Linked DNA regions of Homo sapiens. The protein of the gene in region 6 purifies or fractionates together with the protein of the main gene of each other region. This does not show direct contact. Each region holds a gene or a part of one and is shown on either strand. Other genes may lie near its edges. The genes, in order: GAS6, MEGF8, OXSR1, CELSR1, JAG2, MSTN and POGLUT2.

Region 1 (3,500 bases), on a different chromosome or scaffold from region 6:
ATACACTATTATGAAATAGATATGGATGCCTTGAAGATGGCTGTCCTGGAAAGTTCCCTGTTCTGGGCTGTGGTTTCTCCACGCTGCCCGAAGGGGGACAGAACCAAAGCCGGTGTGAGCTGACACCCCTGGAAGATGGAGGGGCTGGGGCTGAGCCAGGCCTGCCCTGCCCACCGTGGGCAGCCAGGGTGAGCTGGACATCTCGCAGGGGTCCGACACCCTCTGCATGAGTACATGAGGCAGCGAGGCAAAGAACCTCAAGGCGAGGGCTGGCTGGAAGCCCTGAACGTCGCAGCCCAGACCCAAGAGCCCCACGGCTGCATCCCAGGTCTGCGACTCCGAGAAGCTGTCCTGGTGACTCTTTCCACCTGTGGTTTTGCTTTTTAAATAAATGCTCACTCTCATCAACCCCCAGGCACAGGCCCAGGCTGAAGAGGAAAGACAAGAGCCGCCCTGCCCAGAAACGTCCACATGTGGGTACTGCATTCCTACCGGTGTGACAGGTCAGTGTGACAGGTCGGTGTGACAGGCACCGGTGTGACAGGTCGGTGTGACAGGCACCAGTGTGACAGGCACCAGTGTGACAGGTCGGTGTGACAGACACCGGTGACAAGTCAGTGTGACAGGCAGTGGTGTGACAGGCACCGGTGTGACAGGTCGGTGTGACAGGTACTGTTGTGACAGGTCGGTGTGAGACACTGGTGTGACAAGTCAGTGTGACAGGCAGTGGTGTGACAGGCACCGGTGTGACAGGTCAGTGTGACAGGTACTGTTGTGACAGGTCGGTGTGAGACACTGGTGTGACAAGTCAGTGTGACAGGCAGTGGTGTGACAGGTCGGTGTGACAGGCACCAGTGTGACAGGCCCCGGTGTGACAGGTAGGTCATGCTGTGACAGGCCCCGGTGTGACAGGTCGGTGTGACAGACACCAGTGTGACAGGCCCCGGTGTGACAGGTAGGTCATGCTGTGATAGGCCCCGGTGTGACAGGTCGGTGTGACAGGCACCAGTGTGACAGGTAGGTCATGCTGTGATAGGCCCCGGTGTGACAGGTCGGTGTGACAGGCACCAGTGTGACAGGCCCCGGTGTGACAGGTAGGTCATGCTGTGACAGGCACCGGTGTGACAGGCCCCGGTGTGACAGGTCGGTGTGACAGGCACCGGTGTGACAGGTCGGTCACGTTGGCTCCCTGGCACGCGGCAGAGTGGGGACCGTGCCCCCGTGAGTGTCACACTGGGGTCCACACCAGGCTGATCCACTGTGAGCTGGGAGTTGCCATAGAGACTCTATAAATACAACCAAACATCTTCCAGGGAACAGAAGCGTTTCTCATCCCAAACCTCCACATGGCCCTGGAGATCCCCAACACCTTAGCAAAGGCCAGGTCTTCACGGAAGTGTTTCTCCCGAAAGCCCCCACCGGCGAGGGCCCCCGGAACCACCGTGAAGGGCCCGCGGGGCCAGGGGCCGCCTACCTCACAGGTGTCCATGTCCTGGGACAGCTTGAGGCCCCCACGCCCGTCACAGTGGCAGGTGTAGCTCCCTGGGGAGTTCACGCAGACCTGCTCACAGCGGCCCTGCAGACACTCGTCCACATCTGCCAGCCAGAGGGAAGCGGCGGTGAGCCGGGGAGGCCTCTACGCTGTCCCGCCGTGGGATCACACCGCGATTGCTCAAACCACACGCAAGGTGCGCTCAAGGAATTACATGCAGATTCTAACGGGGGCGGCTTGGGGGTCGCGTCCCCCCCCACTGGAAAGCTAGGTTGCACCCTCGGCCTGCTCCTGCCCGGGCTCTTTCTTGAGGGAATAAAAATGTCGCAGGTGTCCCAGGAGGGTGCTCCCAACGAGCCAGACCCACCCCCGCTGCCGGGCCGGTGTGGAAGGCAGGTCTGGGAAGCACAGGGTCTGGGCTGTGCAGTGAGGTGTCCCCCGGAGCACAGAGGGGCCGACAGCTGTGGTGGGAAATGGAGGTCAGTGCAGGCAGCCTGGGCTTCCCCACCCTCTCTGTCTGCCTACTCAGCCCCACTGTTCCCATCACTGGGGGCACGGCCCCTCTTAGAGGCTCTACGGCCAACAGGGCCCTCCCCATGGCGGCTGGAAAGAGAGAACAGTAGAGGGAGGCTTGCTGCTCCCCGTCCCTTTGGGGAGAGGCCCCGTCTATGCAGGTGGAGAAGGGTACACACGTGTGTACATGCGGTGTATATGCATGTGTGCGGTTCGTTCATGTGCACAAGGGGCATGGGTGCCTGTGTGTGCTCACGTGTGTGCGGGCATGGTGGTAGCACAGGCCATTACCAGGCTGATAGAAACAGGGAGAAAGAGACTTTCTTTCACCAGAAGCACCCGGTTGTTAGCAACCGGCTCGGGCAGTGACTGGCACCCGTGTCTAGACTTGGGCGTCAGAGAAAGCGAGGGTGACCGCGTGGCGTGGGTACCTCGGCAAGCCTTCTCCTGGGAGCTGTACGCAAAGCCCTCGTCACAGAGGCAGGAGTAGGAGCCGGGCAGGTTCTTGCAGCGCGCCTCCCCGCAGGCCTCCGAGTCTGCGCACTCGTCTATGTCTGCAAGCAAAAAAAAACCGGCCAACCGCAGCACAGCGGCATCTCAGACGGGGCTGGGGCAGGCGGCTGCAGGGACTGGCCAGGGCACCACCCAGAGGTCGCATCCAGACTCTGTGGGGCCAGCGCGCCCTGGCCCCATTTCCCTGCCCTCCTCCCCTGACCGGGCAGCTCCCGGGGTGTTGGTGCACGCTTCTGATCAAGGCCCGGCTGGGAAGGCTGACTTCAGCCCAGCAGGTGGAGAGCTGGGAAGGGCCCTGCTTGGTGGAGGGGTGGGGGGCGGCGGTGCACGCTGTGCTGTTCCATTTAAATGACGGTGCTACAGGACACGGGGCCGTAAAAAGTAACCCCCCGGGGGCATTTGAAACTAAAACCCCAACCCCAAAGAGAAGCATTTACTGGTTTCAATCAATTTTCACTACCGGGTTAAACCACAATCCTAAGACTTGAGCATCTAATGTGGGACAGATGCTGTTTACGGCCAAGCACCCTGGGGTAGGAGGGGCAACCCTGAAATGAAGAGCCCTTTAGTCACCAGAGGAGAGCAAAGGCAGGGGCACGGAGAAAGGTGGGGGAGGAGAAGGGGGAGTAGGAGTGGGAGGAGGAAGGGGGGAGGGGAAGGAGGAAGAGGAGGAGGAGGAGGGGGAGAAGGGGGAGGGGGAGAAGGGGGAGGGGGAGAAGGGGAGGGGGAGAAGAGGAGGGGGAGGGGAGGAGGGGAGGAGGAGGGGGTAGGGAGAGGATGGAGAGGAGGGGGAGGAGGGGGAGGAGGAGGAGGGGGAGGAGGAGGGGGAGGGGGAGGAGAATGGGGAAGGGAAGGAGGAGGACGGAGGGGGAGGAGGACGGAGGGGGAGGACGACGGAGGGGGAGGAGGAGGAGAAGCAGGGAGGAAGAGGAGAAGGTGAGGGAGGGGTGGGGGAGGAGGTGAGGGAGGGGGTGGGGAGGGG
Region 2 (3,500 bases), on a different chromosome or scaffold from region 6:
GGTGCTACTCCAGGGAATGGCAAGAGGACTGTCATAGGAAGGTCACCCCAGGGGATGCGGGGACATCTGTCAGGCAGGGTCACCTTGAAGGATGCTGGGATGACTGTAATGAGGCTGCTTTTTTGCACCCTGGCCCCAGGTACTCAGTGAGTGAGCGGCGGTGGACACAGATGCTGGCGGGAGCCGAGGACGGGGGCCCAGGCCCATCGCCCCGCTCCTTCCATGCAGCCGCATATGTGCCCGCTGGCCGTGGTGCCATGTATCTGCTGGGGGGACTTACCGCTGGAGGCGTCACCCGTGATTTCTGGGTCCTCAACCTCACCACCCTGCAATGGCGGCAGGAGAAGGTGAGCATCTCTCCCCAGCCCACTCCCCAGCCCTCACACTGGGCCCTGACAGAGACAGCTGTGGTAGCTCCTGCCAGCTCCATCCCCAGAGGAAACAGAAGCCCCAAACTTGAATTTCCTCGGCCATCCTGGGTCACACTGTTGTCCTGAGCCAGTCCTGGGCTGGGACACAGCTTCACTCAGCAGCAGAGAGAGGCCAGGGGAGCAAGGGCTTCCCAAAGCCACACCAGGCTTGAGCAGGTGGAAATGCCAAGGGGCCCACTGTGCCTCTGCCAGGACCCAGGCTGGTCCGACTGGCCCTGGGGGGGTCATTCCCTCCTTAGTACTTCAGGGAGGACTGTGGGGGGCTGAGGCTCGCTTCTACCCACAAGGTGACCCCTGACCTCTAGCCCCATCGGTGACCTTGCCCCTCCATCCCTCAGGCCCCCCAGACCGTGGAGCTGCCAGCCGTTGCTGGTCACACCCTTACTGCCCGCCGAGGCCTGTCTCTGCTCCTGGTGGGCGGTTACTCCCCGGAAAATGGCTTCAACCAGCAGCTGCTGGAGTACCAGCTGGCAACCGGCACCTGGGTGTCAGGAGCCCAGAGTGGGACACCCCCCACAGGTGGGGCTGGGGACCGGGAGGGGACAGCCCCCGTGGACCTCCCGGGCATCTGGGCTTCCTGTGGGCTCTCCATCCACTGCTGTGCTCTGTGGCCACCTGTCTCCCTCTCTTTCCCATCCCCATGCAGATTCTCAGGGCACCCTCTTGAATGTTCAGATTTTCTGACTGTCCTTCCCAGACTCCACAACTAACTGCCCACTCCCGGCCACATGTGGCCACCGTCCCCTGCCCCCAGGGTCTGAGCTCCCTGCTTCTCAAGGGTTCTTCCTCGATCACACCTCCTTTCTTTGATCACTGTCCCCTAGACATTCTGGACGCCCTGTCTCCCTCCCGAGAGCCTGGCAGAACTTACTGCCAGTTGAGGACTCCCTTCTCTTTCCCAGAGTCTCTAATGATTGTCCATTTGAACCCAACTGAGAGGGACGGGTGGAGAGGGGCTCCCAGGCCTCCAGTCTCAGGGCCGGGGAAGGGAGTGGTCACCGAACAGGGGACCGGGAGGTCGGCGGGGTCAGTGCTGTTGTCAGCCCCTCCCCCAGCCTGTCACCCTGCCCCTCACCAGGTCTCTATGGTCACTCTGCTGTCTACCACGAGGCCACCGACTCCCTCTACGTGTTTGGGGGGTTCCGATTCCATGTGGAGCTGGCGGCCCCATCCCCCGAGCTCTACTCCCTGCACTGTCCTGACCGCACCTGGAGTCTGCTGGCCCCTTCTCAGGGGGCAAAGGTCAGGAAAAGAGGCTCAGACCCAAGGATGTATGGGGCAGGAGGGAGGGGTCCTCTTTCCCAGTGCCCCAGGGACTGGCTCCATCCCAGATTCCTGCTTCCCCTCCTTTCTATGTTCCCTAACTAAGCGACACCCCCACATCTCCCCCGCTTCCATCCCTGATTTGGAGGAGAGAACCCGAGGCCAGGAGGTCAGAGGCATGAGTTCTGCCCAGCTCTCCCCTGAGTCTTGGTGCGGCCCTGGCAGGCCCCTTCCCCGTCCTGGGTTTTTCCACTCGTATAAACCAGGACTGAGGCTCCCCGCTCTTTCTGCCTTCAAGGCCAAGGAGAATGTGTGTGGGAGGGCAGGGAGCCCTGTCTGCACTGGTTAGAGAGGCTGGTGGTTTCAGTCCACACGTTTCCAAGCCCGTCTTGGAGGCAGGGGGCTAGAAGCAAGAGACTCGAGGAGCCTCAACCCCAGGACGCCCCCACTGTCACTAGCGAGATCGTATGAGGAATGTGCGTGGCTCATCTCGGGGTCTGGGCCAAGTTCCTGGGGAGCAGCCTGGGTCATGGGGGTTCCGGGAAGTCAGGAAGAAGATGGCTCTGTGGGCTGCTCTTGCTGGTACAGGAGGTTTCCTGGAGGAAATCTCACCTCACCTGAAGGAGGTGAGATTTGAAGAGGGTTAGGATTGGGTGGGCTGGTAGGGGGGGATAGGTAGGGAAGTACAGGGGTGGCTGGAGGGCTAAGAGGGAGCAGAGGACAGCTCTGACAGGCTGTCCTGTCCCCCCACCCCCCGTCTCCCCAACAGCCCCGCCCCCGGCTTTTCCACGCCTCAGCCCTGTTAGGGGACACCATGGTGGTTCTTGGGGGGCGCTCGGACCCTGACGAGTTCAGCAGCGACGTTCTGCTCTACCAGGTCAACTGCAATGCCTGGCTTCTGCCCGACCTCACCCGTAAGTCCCCATTGTGGCTCCCAGGAGGCTGAGGGACATCCAGGAGGAGCCCCATCCCCATCCTGGGACTCCCACTCCTTAGGAGTCACTGGGCCCCTGCAGACCCACTGGCAGAGCTCCCGCTCTTCTGGATTATCTGAACACCAGGACATGCCCTCCTTCCTTTTTTTTTTCTTAGAGAAGTTTATTTTTTACTCTGTAAAAGTAACAATGTTCACTATATATAATTTGTAAAATAGGAAAGAAAAAAAAACACCCATAATCCCTCTCTCTAGAGACAACCACTATTAGACATGGGGGTGTTTCCTACCAGTCTTTGCTGTTCATAGGTAGAAGCATGCCTGTCACTTGCCTTTTTATTTCAATGTTGTGAGTGACTGTTGTGAGTGTGTTTCTGGGACTGTCTCCTTTTCTTTTTGCTTCTCTCTCTGACCCTTTGTCTCTTTTTCTATTTTTATTAGCAACAGGGTCTCACTGTGTTGCCTAGGCTGGAGTGCAGTGATGCTATCTTGGCTCACTGTAGCCTCTGCCTCCAAGGCTCAAGCAAGCAATCCTCCCTCCTCAGCCTCCCAAGAAGCTGGGACTACAGGCATGCCACCACGCCTGGATAATTTTTTTTTTTTTTTTTTTTTTGTAGAGACAGGGTTTTGCTATGTTGCCCACGCTGGTCTTGAACTCCTGGGCCCAAGCAGTCCACCTGCCTCAGCCTCCCAAAGTGCTGGGATTTAATTCCCTTTTTCTCTTAATCTGTCTTTTCAGATTCAGTAGACAGAGACTACTTCATGTCTGTGTCTCTCAGTTATTTTTTGAGGATTTAAAAAAATTGAGGTGAAAGTCACATAACATAAAATTAACCATCTTAAAAATACATTGGCTGCAGCCTGGGTGACAG
Region 3 (3,500 bases), on a different chromosome or scaffold from region 6:
AGGGTACTGTTTTAGTAATCAGAGAATATTATTCTGAGGAAAGGCCAATTGAGTAGACTTGACATAAAGTGAAGGAATGAGCCAAGTGAGTTTTTAACCTAGTAGCTATCCATGAGAATAATTGTCCAGGTCTCATCCACTAGAGTCATGACTTTAATTGGTTTGGGATGACATTGTCCATGTTTCTTTCTTTTTTTTTTTAAGTCCCCAAGTGATTCTGATATGTAACGATGCATTATAGCCACTGAAAAAGATATATCTCTAAAATAGAGACAAGTTAACTGTTTTACCAGTGCTTATTAAGAATATCATTTCCAAGTATTTAATATACATTTCTGGTTCTTCATTGTGTTAAATTCTTGGAATGTATCAAAATTCCCAAGCAGTGAGATCTACGGAAGAGAATAAGCCACTGCTAGACATAATGCTTCTAACTTCTTGGACAGGCCTACCACTATATTATACAAGGTGTAAGACCTTTACCTTCTTCAAGTCTATCATCAGCAGAAGCCCAAACTGCCTCCTTTCCTTCACATTGGATAAGTCTGCTTGAGCAGAGAAGTAAGAGTGAGGAAAAGGGAGGATTTTCTTCTCCCTGCTCTCACAGAGGTTCATAAAAGTATCATGGACAGGAAGATTAATATATTCTGCCCAAACTGAGATATTAAAGCATTCTGTATGCTCACATCATGACCAAACTTCTTAGAAATTACATATGCGTAATAAAGTTCTTTCAGTCTTTCTGTAAAGGCAGTAGAAAATTTGGAGTTCCAAAGAGGGTACTGTGACTTATACCCAAAGCTATAAATGTCATGTAAAATCACAACTCACTCTGGTAGCTGGAAACAGTTATCAAACAGAGTTTAGAATTAATTTACCAATTACTGTCTAGCATCCCTTTTCATCCTAAAAGATAGCAGAGTAATACCAAGGCATATGGTAGACCAAAGATATTTGCTGAATGAATGTATCAAAGAATGCTTTAGAAAGGATCGACAGAAAACCAGTAATTCTCATATACTATTAACAATGTATTACTTAACATGTTTTCAAAATGCAAAAATAAAGTAAATTCTTCAGGAAAACTGAGTTAAATTCTGATTTACCTTTTTTGCTCTTTCAGAAATGGTTGGTGCTCTCTGCAATGTTTTTTCTTGAAGAAATTCTTTATTCTGGAGAGGAAAAGTAAGTATTTTGTTCTTACAAGTTTTTAAGGTACCAAAAAAAACCCACAAAAAAGTTCACCATAATCAAAATGTGATATAGTAACTGTTCTGTAATGAAGTGTGAGAAAAACTTTCATTCTTTCACTCTGAAGCTCCTTTAGTATGTTACTACCACAGTTTCATAAATTGAGGCAGAAAATTAAGATGTAGTACACTGTATGAACCACTGTCTATGAAGAGTTTGCTGTACTGTATGTTCTTTGAGATCATGGTCCTACATTTCCAACTACAGTAACATCCTACTATCTGATATATTTGGGAAATGAGATGTTTACAAATTCAGTAGTAAACCTTAAAACCAGAGTTCGGTATTTTTCACAAATTATATTTATAATGGCAAAATTTAATAATCATTGTTCCTATGATCAGTTTAACCTAATATTTAAAAACGGATTTACTAAATTCTGAAGCAATTATCTTAATTATCAAAGACTGTATACATAGTGCTTTCTGCAATTATTTTATCTACCATCATTTTTCCAAACATAATCATCCAACTTCTAAGCACTGAACATAATCTGAGTAATTGAGGAGCATCCTATGAACACACATAATCAAAAGCTGGAATTTCCTACCTTTGCTTTCTGGAAAAATTTGTGCCTTAATAGTTCTGCTGCTGTTGGTCTAAAACCAGGAAGGGAGGGAAGAAAAGTTTTTATAATTAATTCAAGTGTAATGTCAGATTCCATCATCAAAAATGAGAAAAAATTTTTTTCAACAGCAAAATAAAAACTCAGTATACTCTACTTTCCTTAAACTGCTAAAAAGCAAAAGTAAAATAAACTTGATACAGGACATTGAATAAAATAAAAAACTCAAAACAAATATTCTGATAATTATTGTAGATTCTTTGAAAAAATCATTAGTGAAATGTTTTTTCTGGAAGCATGATTTCTTAATAGAGTCTAATATATTTGCTATTTAATAATATTAATTTAATATTTAATATTATTTCCCAATAAGTAAGCTAGAAAATATCTATCTAACATTTTTAGCAAGGCATAAAAATATATTTAAACACACAAAGAGGAAATGGACCAAATCAAGACCTCCACTTCTTGCCACATGGTAGCCTGCCAGCCTTCAATTTAGGTAACCACAGATCCCTAAAAACAGATTTCACAATCTCCCTTTAAAAATGAAAATTCTAAAAGTATATTCCCCAAATTTAACAAAACTCAGTGTTTAACTCATTTCTTCATGGTCTTATTTCCTTTTAAGTAAAGACACGACTGTCAATTTTACAAGCTTTTAAAAGAGTATCATTCAGAATAAAGAATTTAACATTTAAGAGACTGGACCTGATTTTGCCACACACCTACCTGATCCTGAGCAAATCACAACCTCTCTAAGGTTCAGTATTACTTGGCCAAGCCCCTAAGTTCTTAAACACTGCTGTGCATTGAACTATCTGGGAAGAATGTAAAAATCCCAATGACCAGAGGGCACCATGGCTCATGCTTGTAATCCCAGAACTTTGGGAGGCCAAAGTGGGTGGATCACGATATCAGGAGTTCAAGACCAGCCTGGCCAATATGGTGACACCCAGTCTCTGCTAAAAAAACCACAAAAATTAGCAGGGCATGGTGGCGTGCGCCTGTAGTCCCAGCTACTTGGGAGGCTGAGGCAGGAGAATTGCTTGAACCCATGAGGCGGAGGTTGCAGTGAGCCAAGATTGTGCCACTGTACTCCAGCCTGGGCGACAAAGCAAGACTGTCTCAAAAACAAACAAACGAACAAACAAAACCAATGACCAGGCTGTACCTCAAACCAATTAAAGCAGAATCTTTAATTGGCTTTAGTAATGTTTAAAACTCCCCAGGTAATTCCAATAGGCATTCAAGTTTAAGAACCAGCACCTCAGATGATTATTATAAAGATTAAAAAGCTGAATAAATGTGAAAGTGCTATGCAAACTGAAATCCTACATTATCACTCTTATTTTTTCATATGCTCAACAATTGCTTCTCAATATGCTCAACAATGTGATTGCTCAACATTGCTTCTTATTATTCATTCCTTTCTTCTGACTTCATTTCCTTCTTTCTAAAGTACAACTTATGGGTTCTTTAAGTGACAGAACGTGACTGGAAAACTCAATTTCTGTGTGCAAAATAATTTCATGCTCATTCTTGAATGATAGTCTGACTAGCTGGAGAACTCTGGGTTAAAGTCACAGTCATGAGCCTCTTAATGCTTTGGCCAACAATATACTGTGTATCTGACAGTAGTCAGAGCAACAGGCTACACTAAATAGCCTAGGCATGCAGTAGG
Region 4 (2,974 bases), on a different chromosome or scaffold from region 6:
GGAAATTTTAAAACTTAATTACAGTATTTGAAATAAATTCACTGGGTGAGTTCAGTAGCAGAATTAAGACGACAGAGGAAAAAAAATCAGTGAACTTGAAGACGGAGCACCAGAAATAGCCAAATCTGAAGGACAGACAGAAAAAAGAATGAAGAAAGGTGAACAGAGCCTCAGGGACCAGTGGGAAAACATCAAGAGGTCTAACGTCTGAGTCACTGGAGTCACAGAAGGAGAGGAGAAAGATCAGTGCAAGAAAAGAAAACTGAAGAAATAATGGCAAAAAAAAAAAGTCCTCAAATTTGGTGAAAGACAAAAACTGCCCATCTAGGCTGTGGCAGGCCTACTAGGGAATGGACAAAAAGTTCCGGCACGTTCCACTGGCTGAGGGAGCATGGGACACGGACAGCTCAGCTGCACGTCCGTAAACCGTCCCTTCCACGGCCACCCTGGGCATGGGGAGGGGCGGGGGTGTTTGTGGAGAAAAACCAGCACCGCAGAAGTACAAATTCAAAAATCTTAATTTATTGTAGACTCTTCTCATTTGTAATTCCAGTGTTTTGAACATTAATAAATACACGTTCTGTTAAAAACCTCCAGTGTCTAATCTCTCCCATAAAGTCTTAAGTAATAAAAATAGGTTTACATTTTTCCCATCTCAATAAAACTGACAGTTGTTTTTTGGTAACAGTTCTGATCAAATTAAAAATTACACCTCGTGATGTTGGCTGTGGAGTACGTGGAAAAAAATAGAACAAAAAAATTACACCTCAGGGGGCAGAATCCTGTTAAAGTCATGAAAGGAGACTGTTCGAAGACTTAAAAACCTTTTCGTACTTAGGAAACGCCAGGGGCAAACGTTTAAAGGGACTAGAGTTTTTTATCTTCGAAAGACCACTCACCTGGTAAGGCACATGTATAATTCATTCAGGTGTGAGGACTCTGGGATCTCATTTCATCCTCCTGTCCTGGACCATTTTCAGATACGCTTTTCCTCTCCCATAGGCATCTGCTAACAGTGCTCACATTTTCATCAGGGTCAAGTTTAAAACAGTGTGGACATCTTTGCATTTTACTTGATTTTCATCCTATTTTATGGTTTCTCCTATTTGGAAGCAGCTGTGCTGATCACTTATTTGGGCACCTGATTTGAAGAACAAAGGAAACGCTAAAATCAAACATGTCTGACAGTTCCGGGACCCGTTCCACAGCCCCTCGGGCCACGCTGTGCCAGCTGCCTGCAGTGGGCCCGACCTTGGTGTGAATTTCCAAAAACAGTTTGGTAACCGTTGAAGAGTGTGGCTGTGGCTTTGTCCCTCTGCACAATTGGCCATTTGAAGCAAAATGAAGTAATTGGTCAGACTCCAGAGGGGAGAACCCTGCCTGGAGATCCTCGCAGTCTCAGAGAGTTAGAGAATTGGCAGGAGGTATGTAACGGCCTGGAAGGCCCCACACCTCTGTCCAAATCAGGAACCTGCAACGCTTTAAGGTCCCAGGTCCCACGGGGAGCAGGAGCAAAGGACAAAGCCATCCCCACCTGCAGCTCCCGGGCCACCTGGGAGGCGGTGAGGGGAGGGGGTGGTGGTCACAGAATGACCAGGTGAAAAATGACAGCCGTGTGGCAACCGTGCCCCACAGTGACCTCAGCAGGGCTCCTCACACCTGCCTAGTGCTGCACTGCCCTGTCTTGAATTCACACAGCCGGGGCAGATGGCAGCAGAGGACAAACGCACACACAGCGAACACTGGGGACCCAGGGGGCCGGCGGGGAGGGCCCACACCATCCTCACTTCCTGGCCGAAGGCAGCTGTAGGGCTTCTAGCCGCTTGGTTTTAGCCCCACTGCTGACGTATTTCCCACCTTTGATCTGCTGGGGCACCAGTTTCGTCAACACATGCCAGATTCAAGTACAACTGTGCAATCTTGACAGAGAAGACAGCAAGAGATCATTGCATGGATCTCTCGGGATAACAAAGTCAGCACGAATGCAATATATATACAGGTTGCACCTCCTCAGAGTCCCATACAAATATATAAAAGTATCTCCACCTTTCCCACATAGCGAAGTGATTTTAAGACAAGGGGTGCCTTTGCAAAGGACTGCCCGGGCTGCCAGCCACGGGTCCGCACTGCCATGAGATGCCCGCCTGGGCGGGGCTGGACCGCGGTCTTTGGTCTGTGCCCGGCGTTCCTGAACTCTGGCCAGCCTCTGGGCCCAGTCTGGGGTCCCCTCTCAGTTCTGGCTTTGACTGCAGTCTTAGGACTCAGCGGTGCTGGCCCAGTGGTCCACGCCTCCCTCATGCCTGTGGCCTTTGGCACTTGTCACCAGGTCTGACAGGCCCTGAGCTCCTGGGAGAACCAAGACCTTTGTGTCTGGATGATCAGTCGGGGGGCTGCCACCATGGGGACCGCCACACTCTGGGCCCACTCCACTTCAAGGGCAGTGGCCCCTTGGGCTCCAAGGTCTGAGGGTGATGCCGCAGCCTGTGTGGGGTGACGGGCTTGCCTCACGGTTTCCTGATGGTTCAAATTGAAGTTTCATTACTGATGGTTCAAATTGAAGTTTCATTACTGCCTCTGCGCGTGGGAAGAAGCCAGCAAGCAGGTGAAGGGTCAGTGAGGGTAGCGGCTTGGTGGGGCCCAAGGTTGTCACACGGGGGGGCAGGATCACCCCATCAGGGTAGAGGGGGCGTCTGGGGGCTCCAGGGAGGGCAAGCTCATGTTGGATGAGGCTGCCCTTGGGAGGCAGGAGAGGGGACCAGGACCAGCCTGTGGGCCTCTGTGTTGCTGGTCTTTCAGAAGAGCGCAAGGAATCCACGTTAGAAACCGGCCATCTCTACAGTGACTTTTGGAAGGGGCATTCTGAAGACCTGGCTTCTCCCTTGTGAGTTTGGAGGGAGGGAGGGGCGACAGGGAGAGGTCTGGGGCCAGGACCCCAGCTCCACCCCGCCCCCTTCACCCCTGGCATTCCGGGACC
Region 5 (3,500 bases), on a different chromosome or scaffold from region 6:
GGCCCCCAGCTTTCCACAAGCACTCCTCCCCAAGCCCACAGGTTCCCAAGCTGGGGGTCAGGGGCCCACCACACAGGACGCCAGAGGGATGGGGCCTGACCGGCTCCCCAGGGAACCAGTCCCTGCCTGGCCAGAATTTGGGTGGCCAGCCCCCCACGTACCCTTCTCACAGTTCCTGCCCGAGTAGCCGTCAGGGCAGGTGCAGCGGTACTGGTCAGGCTCGGCGTTGATGCACGTGCCTCCGTTGGTGCAGGGGTGGTGGCTGCCACAGTAGTTCAGGTCTGGGGGCAGGGGTGGGATGCTCAGGGGAAAAGCCGGCCCCCCGCTCCCCCACAACCCACACTTCGATGGCAGAGCATTAGGCCTGCCGCCCCCTACCACTACCTTTGTCACAGAGCAGGCCGCCCCAGTTGGTCTCACAGTTGCACTGCCAGGGCTCCACACAACTGCCATGCACGCAGCCGGGGTAGGGGACACACTCATCGCAGAACCTCCCTTGCCAGCCGTAGCTGCACCTGGGGGAAGGAGGAGGGGCGCAAGACCCAGTGAGCTGTGGTGCCTGAAAGGGTGGCAGGGGAGCCAGGCACAGTCACCCACGCCACACCCAGGGCCGGCGGGCGGCCTCAGGCCTTTGAACTGGAGCAGCCCCAGCCAGGCAGGGGTTGCAGCCCTGCCGGCCAGCCCCACTGTCACGGGCATTCCCGGCCGCTGGCTGCCGACGGTCAGCCCCAGCTGTCCCGTCACTCCTCCCTGAGCTATTTTGGGATTCACCCGTGAGCTGGGCCCCGAGAGCAGGCACCAGGAAAGGAAGGCCCTGCCGGGACCCCGGGGATGAGAATGCCGGCTCGGACTCACAAGGTGCTGCCAGGGCCGGGAGGCACCAGGGGCTGGGTAGGCCAGCGGGCAGCAGGGGAGCACTCCTGGCTCTGCCTCGGCCATGTGGCCCTGGGCACAGCACGTGCCCTCGCCCCCACCTCAAAGGCAGTCATTTCGCTCGCTCCCAGTAAAGTCCCACAAGGTACCCATCTCACAGATGGGGCTACTGAGGCCCACAGGCTGGCCTGGGCCAGCCCTGCCCAGGGTAGTTCCTGATTCTGCAGGAGCTCCAGCTGCACCCCCAGCTGCACCCCCCAGGACACAACCACCAGGACTCGCCCTGCCCCAGGCTATCGGCCAACGTCCTGTCTTGGGAGTCCCCCAGGAGAGGGCAGGTGGCCAGGGTAGAACATGGCCTGACTTGAGGGTGCCTCCGTCAGGGGAGAGAGCCTGCAACGACCCCAAGGCTCAGCAGGCTGCCATCCAGGCCCTGCCGGGACTCCCGGGGGGCCCTTCCTAGAACTCTCCGGTCCTGCAGGACGGGAATGTCATCCAGGCCACGTCACTTCCACACCGGCACCCGCCACACTTTATTTTTGTAAAAGGAAAGAACCACGGCCCTTCCTGAGCCGCCCTCAAGCCACACAGCCAGCACCGAAGGCCTATCAGCCCAGTTCAGCTGCCACAAATGGGGAAACTGAGGCCGGGAAGAACGTGTCTCCAGTATCCAGCCCAGCATGCACAGTGGTCCGCGTGGGTGGCCTCACATCCCGCCTAGAATCCCTCCTCCACAGACACAGAGACCCAGGCTCAGGGCGGGGCTGTGACACACCTTGGGTCATCGGCCAGAGAGCGGCCACAGCCGGGCTCAGAGCCCAGACCTCGTGGGTCCCAAGGGCGTGCTCTCGACCCTGGGCAGGGCAGCCCACACCAGGCCCCCACCTCCTGGTTTCCCCAGCCAGCAGCCCCAGGGCCCTGGAGAGGCGGCGGCAGGAAGGCATGGCCATCTCCGCAGCATCCGGTGGGGGGGCGTCCTGCACTGGAACCTGAGCCGAGGCTGTCAGCAACAGCTGGGCCTCCCCGACAGGGCCAGCAAGAGGGGCAGGCGGAGCTCACCTACTGCCCCCACCCACCAGGCCCCCCAGACTCCGGCTCATCTTCCTGCGGGTAAAGGGCAGGGATGGCCAACTTCTCTGCTGCCTTCCTCCAGCCTTGGTGTGACATTCAAGCTGCCAGCCAGCAGCCATCCAGGGAGGGTGGCACTGCCATCCAGGTTGTGTGATGCACACTGGGCCAGGCGAGGGTGAGTGGGGCCGACTCCCGTAGATCTACATCTACATCTGCCCAGACCAGGTCCACCTTGTTGCACTTTCTGAGCTGACTTGGGACTCGCTCAACCTGCCGGGAATCCCTGTGTGTGCAAGTGACCGGGTGGGCGGCCCCAGCCCTGCTTGCCTCCCCGCTCTGGGACTGGCCGGGAAAGCTCCTCACTGTACCCTCCAGGCCACTCAACCGTGGGGCCTGTGGAAGGGTCACCCACCTCCCCACCTTGGCTCCCAACTCAGCTGGTTCCCAAACTCCCCGACTCCTCTCCAAAACGCCACGCTGTGTGACCCTGGGGAAATCAGTAGGCTCTCTGTGCCCCAGTGTCCTCGTCCCATGGAGGCAAACCCACTCCACAGAGGGAGGTCCTGGGACCCCTGCAATCCAAGGCTGGCTGGAGGGCGGTGCTCACCTCCACCTGCTGTCTCTCCACCCGCTCGCGCCCCTCTCTCGGGCTCCCCAGCTTGCTCACGCACAGTGAGCGCCACGGCTCGAAGCCCGTGCCCACCCCAGACCCTGGGCCCCAGCCCCTCTGGTTGCCCTGCTGACTTCTCTGCTCCACTCTAGGGCAAAGCTGCCAGCCCCCCTGGCTGGATCCCCCACACTCTGGTCTGGGTCCAGAGGCCTCCACCATCTGGACTTGGCTGTAAGACCCCGGACACTCCCTTGTGGAGGCCCTTGCTGACTCCTCATCCATCCGCCCTGACCTGTGGCAGCCGGGACTTGCTCCTTGGCCTCCCTCCTCTCTGCCTTCCCCACTTTCCCGTCACCGCCTGAATGCCACCCCCCACAGGCCCCGCGTGGCGCAGGCCAGGCCTCTCCCACGAGCTTTCTGGGTGTCTCCAGGGACAGGGCAGGCATCGCCTCTCCACATCCAGCTAACCCCGGCCCCGCCTGCTCCTCTGTGGCATTCCTCCTGCCACCATGGCTCTGCTACTCAGCAGCTTGGGGTTCTCCCTGACTCCACACCCTTCCTGCTTGATCAAATCCATCCACAAACCCCTGGGCTCCACCCCAGGATGTCTGCAGGACCCGTGCGCCTCTCCCCCTTCCACTGACCCCCTCCCCATCCCGCTGGCCCCTCCCCCACCACCCCCACATGCCCCACAGCGGCCTCCCCCTCACAGCCTCCCGTCTGGTGCTTCCCCACTCAACAGCTACCACAGCCCTTCCACCCACCTTGCCCAGCTACAAACCTGCCAGCAGCCCCTTCCTCTGTCCCTGGTCCTGCAGGCCTCAGCTCCCACCACTGGTCTGCTCTGCCGCCCCTCGCCTGCTGGTGTCACTTGCCGGCCGCTCGCCGCCCACCCCCTCCCCATGGGCAGGGTTACCGTGTCCTCTGCCCATGCCCCATCTCTGGG
Region 6 (4,062 bases):
CTACCGTTGGGGTAAGATACCTTTGTCTAGCTTATGAGCTTAGGGAATTTGTAGCTATTTTCCACTATTGTTTGTTCATATTATGAATAAAAACATAAGGTTATTATAATGTTATTTTCAGTTATCACTTACCAGCCCATCTTCTCCTGGTCCTGGGAAGGTTACAGCAAGATCATGACCATTCTCATCTAAAGCTTTTATTTCAATGCCTAAGTTGGATTCAGGTTGTTTGAGCCAATTTTGCAACACTGTCTTCACATCAATGCTCTGCCAAATACCAGTGCCTGGGTTCATGTCAAGTTTCAGAGATCGGATTCCAGTATACCTTGTACCGTCTTTCATAGGTTTGATGAGTCTCAGGATTTGCACAAACACTGTTGTAGGAGTCTCGACGGGTCTCAAATATATCCATAGTTGGGCCTTTACTACTTTATTGTATTGTATTTTAGAGCTAAATTTAAAGAAGCAACATTTGGGTTTTCCATCCACTTGCATTAGAAAATCAGCTATAAATGAATAAGAAAAGAAAAGTTGCTGAAATTATTTCCCATTAACAAAACCCCTCCATATTAATAGTTGAGCATTTTTTTAAATTAAGATAATGTATGCCTATGCAGTCTTTTAAAATGAAATACCGTGTGGAACTTTATAACTCAAAAAAATGTCAAAGAAAATAATTACCCTAGCTTTTCAGAATTTTTCAGACGTATGTATTTTCAGCTGTTCATCAGGAATCTATTCCCCTTCCAGAGAACTATGGACAAAGGAAGGTTCTATGAAGTAATGAACGCTGAATGAAATTTTAAAATGATGATGATTAGAGAGAACAAGAGACACTGTGGAGGAACAACCACTTAGAATTCTTTGGGAATCTGAGTAGTTACACTTACTGAGCAGCTGTACCAATCAGTCTGGAAGAAGGAACCCTTCCCCCAGGCCTGAATTACCTGGGGACAAGACACACTGAGCAACTTACTGAGCCTCAGGAATTAGTAGAAAACACAGTACATCTGTTACATTTTGGCTTTGGAATAACCTTTTAAAGGAGCAAAACTAAGCAGATAATTAACACAAAAATTTTGATGTTATATTCAGGCTATCTGAAAAGTTCGAAAGTATTGTCTTTAGGGCCAGGCTGTCATGTAAGCACAAGCACTAACAATTTCTTTTATTTTGGTTTTCCAAAATTGTCTATAAAAGGTAAATCTGCTCCAGACCTATTTGATAGCAGAGTCTTAAATGGAAATTCTTTGCTGCATTGTAACCTGATTACTTAATAAGGGAAATAATATTTTAAAACTGTTTGGAGTCTTGTTTAAAGTATATAAAGCATTGTATTAAAGCAAGATAACAGGTAACACAAAATTTTTCTTGCCATGCCTTCTCTGTCAAGGTGCCTGTTTCTCTTTCCTGGAGAAAGTATTCTTTTGAGCTGACTGCAAAAGGAATTGTATGAAATATGTTATCTGTCAGAAGCAGTGTAGATACTACAGGTAAAAGCCCTCCCTCTCAGGAAGAATAAAATATTTTAGAAGGTTATTAAGCACTGTGCCTGCTTGGAAGTACACAAACTGGGTACTCTCAATAATAGTACTATGGTCAAGGTACAAGGAGGACTTTGTGAGCCATAACCTACCCAATTAAAATGTTTATTTCTTAGGCATTTTCTAATATTTAGTTCATGATGATTATTATGCTATGTTTACTTCATTATTGTTCTTACTAACACATTAAGATATTTAATTTTTGCATATTCTTCAGTGTAATAGCTCTCAAAATTAAATTTTTAACTGTGAAGAACAAAAAAATTACTGAGAGAGTTTCAAATAACAGAAATCACTTGAGGTTTTCAGCAGTGCTCAAGTAAGCTTAAACATCCAGCAAGTTTCTTTTTTTTTTTCTGTTATTAGTGAAAAAAACTTATTTTACACAACTAAATACAATTCTAAAATCTAATGTAAGTTTTAAACACTGCTTGTAGTATCTCCCAGTCCTTGCCTTGGTGGTATTATTGTGAAAGCATAAGCATGCTATCTATATTTGCCTTATTAAATTAATGCTATGCAAGTACTTTATTTTTTAGTTTTTTGTCTCTATAAGAAAACAAATAATGCAGCAGATTTTTGTCTCATTAATATATTCTCATGCAATCTTGAAAAAGAGAAACTCTTTTCCTTTCTACTTACATACAGGCCAACAGCTTGTTTAAAAGAGCCTGAAAATAGATCTGTTTCTCATAAACACTAGAACAACAGTCAGCAGAACTGTTGATATACACTAATAGGACTACTTACACTCTGTAGGCATGGTAATGATTGTTTCCGTTGTAGCGTGATAATCGTCATCTTCCAAAGAGCCATCGCTGCTGTCATCCCTCTGGACATCATACTGATCAATCAGTTCCCGGAGTGGAGGAGCTTTGGGTAAAAGTTGTCTTATAACATCTTTGCTGATGTTAGGAGCTGTTTCCAGACGAAGTTTACTGAGGATTTGTATCTTAATGGCTTCTATTCTTGAAGATTTAGTGTTTTGTCTCCAAGTACATGCATTACACAGCCCCTCTTTTTCCACATTTTCTTTTTGCTCACTGTTCTCATTTAGATCCACTGGACCAGCAACAATCAGCATAAACAGGTAAATATAAACACAGAGTTGCAGTTTTTGCATGATTTTAAAATCAATATAATCTTTTTTCTTGTTCTTGTTTCTTCCTTTTACTTTTCTTTTGCTTTTGAGTAATGCCAAGCAAAATTTTAATGCATGTACAGTCTGAGAGACAACTTGCCACACCAGTGAATCTTTTATACTGTATTCCAAGTGGCTTTTTATATTCCAACTTAGATGAGACAAGTGTCGTCAGGATCTATGATTGGCTCTTGCTCCACAATGAATCTCGCTGTCAGAGGTTAAAACCCTGTCTGTCCCAAGTCACCAAGCAGTATTTTGTTACAGTCAAGGGTGAGCTGATTCATTTGACTACTTCATAAAAGAAATAAATCTACAAATAATAAAAGATATTTGTGACATTTGAAAAACAAAAGTCTATGTTGGCAATAATATAAACTGTACTTAAATCTTACTAATCCTCACACAACTCTTATTGTAATTTAAATAAGTCAATTTTAATTTATACTACATATTTAAAATATGAAATATTACTTCCTCAAAAACTAAAATGATTTTATATTGTTTAGGCAAGTATTTGAAGTAGAAAATATTTTTATTTGTTGTATTAAATTATTTTTAGTGCCAAGTAATTAGGAAAATAAAAATTAGGAAGACCTGAATTAAAAGTTAAGATTATGATACTAGTTGAGAATTTTCATCTATAATTTGAGAAACTTGTTTTCTGACTAAATTCTTAGTAAATATTGGAAGTCATTGTTATTATAACATATTGTGCATGGAATTATTTTTACATAGTTTCATGTCTTTTATTAATATGAAAATTATACTGAACTTTTGACTGAGTGCTATTATTTCCTATTCTAAAGATGCAGATTAACATAACTCAGAAGATGTGTTTTTCATTGTTTATTACCAAGAGGGTAATGCCAGCTAGTAGAAAAATCTCTGAACATAGACTAAGATAATGAATTTTATAACTGGCATGGCAGAGATTATTACAGTTTGCCTCAGATTTCCAGCAGTAAATATCCAGAGAGTAAAAAGTGCAGTATCTATTCTCTATAAATTATATCAGAATATTATGAGCACATAAAAGAGAAAGAGCATCATGATAAAGGGGTGACCTTTTGTTGTTTCCCAATACTGCGATATGTTTGCACCCCTTTGCCAATTTCTCATTTTGACCAGAGGGCAGACACCTGGCAGGGATTTGGGGTAAAGTCTGGGAGCAGAGAATAGAGCTTTTTGTTCTCTAAATTTAAGTGGCCTCTGTAGGGATCAAACGTTCAACCTTAGCTTTGGGAGCCACAAGATCTAGTCAAATGAACTATTAAAGAGCTAAGCAAACATAGCCAGCAAGAAACAGAAGATATTTCTAGGCCAAAGGAGATTTCTTTTTCCTACTCCTTTTTGGGAAGCTAAGGATTCCTAAGA
Region 7 (2,598 bases), on a different chromosome or scaffold from region 6:
GTTTCCCAATATCATGGGTCCTTTTGAAATGTATTGTACCTGGAGAGCATCCAGGATGTTCACGTAATAGACTTTGGCCTGTAAATGGGAAGCTGCCTGCCCATAGATGGCACGGCAGTTCCCCTAGGCTGAACACAGCGGGCACTGCATCTTACATTAACTCTCCACTCTGCATGTGAAACAAAAAGCTAGGCTGGGTGCGGTGGCTCGTGCCTGTAATCCCAGCACTTTGGAAGGCTGAGGCAGGCAGATCACCTGAGGTCAGGAGTTCAAGACCAGCCTGGCTAACATGGTCAAACCCCATCTCTACTAAAAATACAAAAATAAGCTGGCGTGGTGATGGGTGCCTGTAATCCCAGCTACTGGGGAGGCTGAGGCAGGAGAATCACTTGAACCTGGGAGGCGGAGGTTGCAGTGAGCCGAGACCACACCATTGCACTCCAGCCTGGGCAACAAGAGCAAAACTCCGTCTCAAACAACAACAACAAACAACAACAACAACAACAAAAAGCTAAACTGTGGCCTTGATTACACTTTCTCTTTCAAGTAGCGTTGCTCTGAGCCACAAGCATTGCCTCCGCTAGCAATGTGAAAATTGTAAGATGGCCAGTCTGGCAGAAGTCACTAACAGGCTCCAGGTTAAAATGAGGGATTGATTCAGAAGTAGATGCAGCCATAAATACAGAAATAAAGAGGGATGGAATGCAATAAACTTTAAGCTAATTGTCTCCTGAAATTTGTGAAGGCAGCTGGCTAAGCTTCATCTTGCGTTTACAAAGTCATCAGTTTGCTTGGTGTACAACCTTGTCTCTCCAGGAGAGGCTTAGTTCTAGAAGGTCCAATATGACTTTTCAAACTTTTAAGTCTTAGAAACCTCCCTCTGATTTAAACAAACATACTCTGTTAAATGTTCTGTTTTACCATGAGACTACCCCCAAAGATATTATTTCCCACAGTTGCCCCAATGTATACATACTCTGAAGAGCAGTTTGCAGATGCCTGCATGGGAAAAATGGATTCTATTACAGGATTTTGTCGTTGTTCTTCCTGTAGGCCAAAAAGATAGCAAAAGCAGGACAAGAATTTGCAAGAAATAATCTCATGGGCGATGACATATTCTGTTATTATTTCAAACTTTTCCAGGTCAGTATTTTCCAAGAAAATCATCACGTAACTTATAAGTAGACATGTTAAGAACAAATAATATTTTACTTAACAATTTCTAAACATATGTTACTATAGGGAGATATATATACTTCTGTGGATGAAAATCAGAGACAAATATTAAGTAATCATAAAAAAATAGTTGAAAACCAAAGATTAGCTAATGGAAAATGTTACAATATTAAGCGAAAACTATTAATATTAGAACTATGTGATGTCTGACTAAGAAATTGGCCTCTGATCCTACAAAGTTACAGTGCATGGATTTGTATGTTCTCTTTGTGTTACATTGCTGCTGCCTTACCATTTCTTTGTCTAAACAGTGCCAGGTGTGTTTGGGCCTCTTGTCTTGACTCTGTATGAGCCATGACTTCCCTTGGAAATTATTTCCATGGACCTAAGCATTTAGAGATTGTAATCAAGCATATCCGACGATTTAAAGGACTCTTTTAAAAATGTGGTAGTAGGCCGGGTGCGGTGGCTCACACCTGTAATCCCAGCACTTTGGGAGGCTGAGGCAGACAGATCACCTGAGGTGAGGAGTTTGATACCAGCCTGGCCAACATGGTGAAACCCCGTCTCTACTAAAAATACAAAAATTAGCCGGGTGTGGTGGTGCACACCTATAATCCCAGCTATTCGGGAGGCTGAGGCAGGAGAATCACTTGAACCCGGGAGGTGGAAGTTACAGTGAGCCGAGATCGTACCCCTGCACTCCAGCCTGGGTGACAAGAGTGAGATTCTGTCTCAAAAAAATAAACAAACAAAAAAAAAAAAACAAAATCAGGTAGTAAACAAGTTCTTGGCTAATAACAGTACTAGATCTAGAGTAAGAGTTTTATCTCACAGTTGCAGATACTGAGCCCCATATCTGAGGCTCTGCTACAGATCAAAGTTGGTGTATTTCTGGCCTGTACTGGCTCCTCCCGATTTTGTAACCTTCCCTTGATAGAGGGAAGCAGAGGACAAACCGTGTAAAATGAATAAACTGGGGGGATTTACCATGTGAATTTCTAAGGATCCATGGGGCAGTGTTCATTCATTTAGCATAGGTACTTAGCACAGTGCTTCACTCAGAGTAAGCACATGATAAATGAAGATGATGATGGAGGCTTGTGCAAGCCATGATAAGGAAAGCAGAATAGTCTCTGTCTTCACATTCTCAGTCTAGGGAAGATTGTGTGCAAAATTATTTTTACTGTGAGGCAGAAGACGGTTAAAAAAAAAAGTCATGGAAATTTAGGATAGCATAAAGAGGTGTCTGTTAGGAATAGGCAGCCAGTGTTCAAAGGATGGCCTCCTCTCAGATGCTCTACTGTTGATGTTCAGAACTGGTATATATGACGGACTATGCAGATCACAGTTTGACACACATGAGTTAAATGAATCATAGTCTTCATATATTCTAGCCTCTCTCATTGGGTGGATATAAAG

Evidence for each region.
Region 1: the proteins of MSTN (region 6) and GAS6 purify together in Homo sapiens (affinity purification with mass spectrometry; one large-scale study listed by BioGRID and IntAct). This does not show direct contact.
Region 2: the proteins of MSTN (region 6) and MEGF8 purify together in Homo sapiens (affinity purification with mass spectrometry; one large-scale study listed by BioGRID and IntAct). This does not show direct contact.
Region 3: the proteins of MSTN (region 6) and OXSR1 purify together in Homo sapiens (affinity purification with mass spectrometry; one large-scale study listed by BioGRID and IntAct). This does not show direct contact.
Region 4: the proteins of MSTN (region 6) and CELSR1 purify together in Homo sapiens (affinity purification with mass spectrometry; one large-scale study listed by BioGRID and IntAct). This does not show direct contact.
Region 5: the proteins of MSTN (region 6) and JAG2 purify together in Homo sapiens (affinity purification with mass spectrometry; one large-scale study listed by BioGRID and IntAct). This does not show direct contact.
Region 7: the proteins of MSTN (region 6) and POGLUT2 purify together in Homo sapiens (affinity purification with mass spectrometry; one large-scale study listed by BioGRID and IntAct). This does not show direct contact.

The regions. Positions count from the first base shown.
Region 1 is NC_000013.11:113,833,077-113,836,576, forward strand, and holds part of GAS6 (growth arrest-specific protein 6 precursor), read right to left. Parts: intron 2,560-3,500; coding exon 2,437-2,559; intron 1,689-2,436; exon of another isoform or gene 1,608-1,688; intron 1,597-1,607; coding exon 1,475-1,596; intron 504-1,474; exon of another isoform or gene 416-503; intron 1-415. UniProt on the Homo sapiens protein: Ligand for tyrosine-protein kinase receptors AXL, TYRO3 and MER whose signaling is implicated in cell growth and survival, cell adhesion and cell migration.
Region 2 is NC_000019.10:42,356,635-42,360,134, forward strand, and holds part of MEGF8 (multiple epidermal growth factor-like domains protein 8 isoform 1 precursor), read left to right. Parts: intron 1-139; coding exon 140-347; intron 348-769; coding exon 770-950; intron 951-1,509; coding exon 1,510-1,673; intron 1,674-2,152; coding exon 2,153-2,320; intron 2,321-2,463; coding exon 2,464-2,608; intron 2,609-3,500. UniProt on the Homo sapiens protein: Acts as a negative regulator of hedgehog signaling.
Region 3 is NC_000003.12:38,228,037-38,231,536, reverse strand, and holds part of OXSR1 (serine/threonine-protein kinase OSR1), read right to left. Parts: intron 1,851-3,500; coding exon 1,802-1,850; intron 1,173-1,801; coding exon 1,107-1,172; intron 1-1,106. UniProt on the Homo sapiens protein: Effector serine/threonine-protein kinase component of the WNK-SPAK/OSR1 kinase cascade, which is involved in various processes, such as ion transport, response to hypertonic stress and blood pressure.
Region 4 is NC_000022.11:46,360,674-46,363,647, forward strand, and holds the end of CELSR1 (cadherin EGF LAG seven-pass G-type receptor 1 isoform 1 precursor), read right to left. Parts: exon of another isoform or gene 2,575-2,974; coding exon 2,550-2,574; 3' UTR 2,515-2,549; coding exon of another isoform or gene 2,505-2,514; 3' UTR 501-2,504; downstream 1-500. UniProt on the Homo sapiens protein: Receptor that may have an important role in cell/cell signaling during nervous system formation.
Region 5 is NC_000014.9:105,151,777-105,155,276, forward strand, and holds part of JAG2 (protein jagged-2 isoform a precursor), read right to left. Parts: intron 516-3,500; coding exon 385-515; intron 282-384; coding exon 162-281; intron 1-161. UniProt on the Homo sapiens protein: Putative Notch ligand involved in the mediation of Notch signaling. Involved in limb development.
Region 6 is NC_000002.12:190,059,930-190,063,991, forward strand, and holds the start of MSTN (growth/differentiation factor 8 preproprotein), read right to left. Parts: upstream 2,801-4,062; 5' UTR 2,668-2,800; coding exon 2,295-2,667; intron 507-2,294; coding exon 133-506; intron 1-132. UniProt on the Homo sapiens protein: Acts specifically as a negative regulator of skeletal muscle growth.
Region 7 is NC_000013.11:102,786,379-102,788,976, reverse strand, and holds part of POGLUT2 (protein O-glucosyltransferase 2 isoform 1 precursor), read left to right. Parts: intron 1-1,053; coding exon 1,054-1,143; intron 1,144-2,598. UniProt on the Homo sapiens protein: Protein glucosyltransferase that catalyzes the transfer of glucose from UDP-glucose to a serine residue within the consensus sequence peptide C-X-N-T-X-G-S-F-X-C. Can also catalyze the transfer of xylose from UDP-xylose but less efficiently.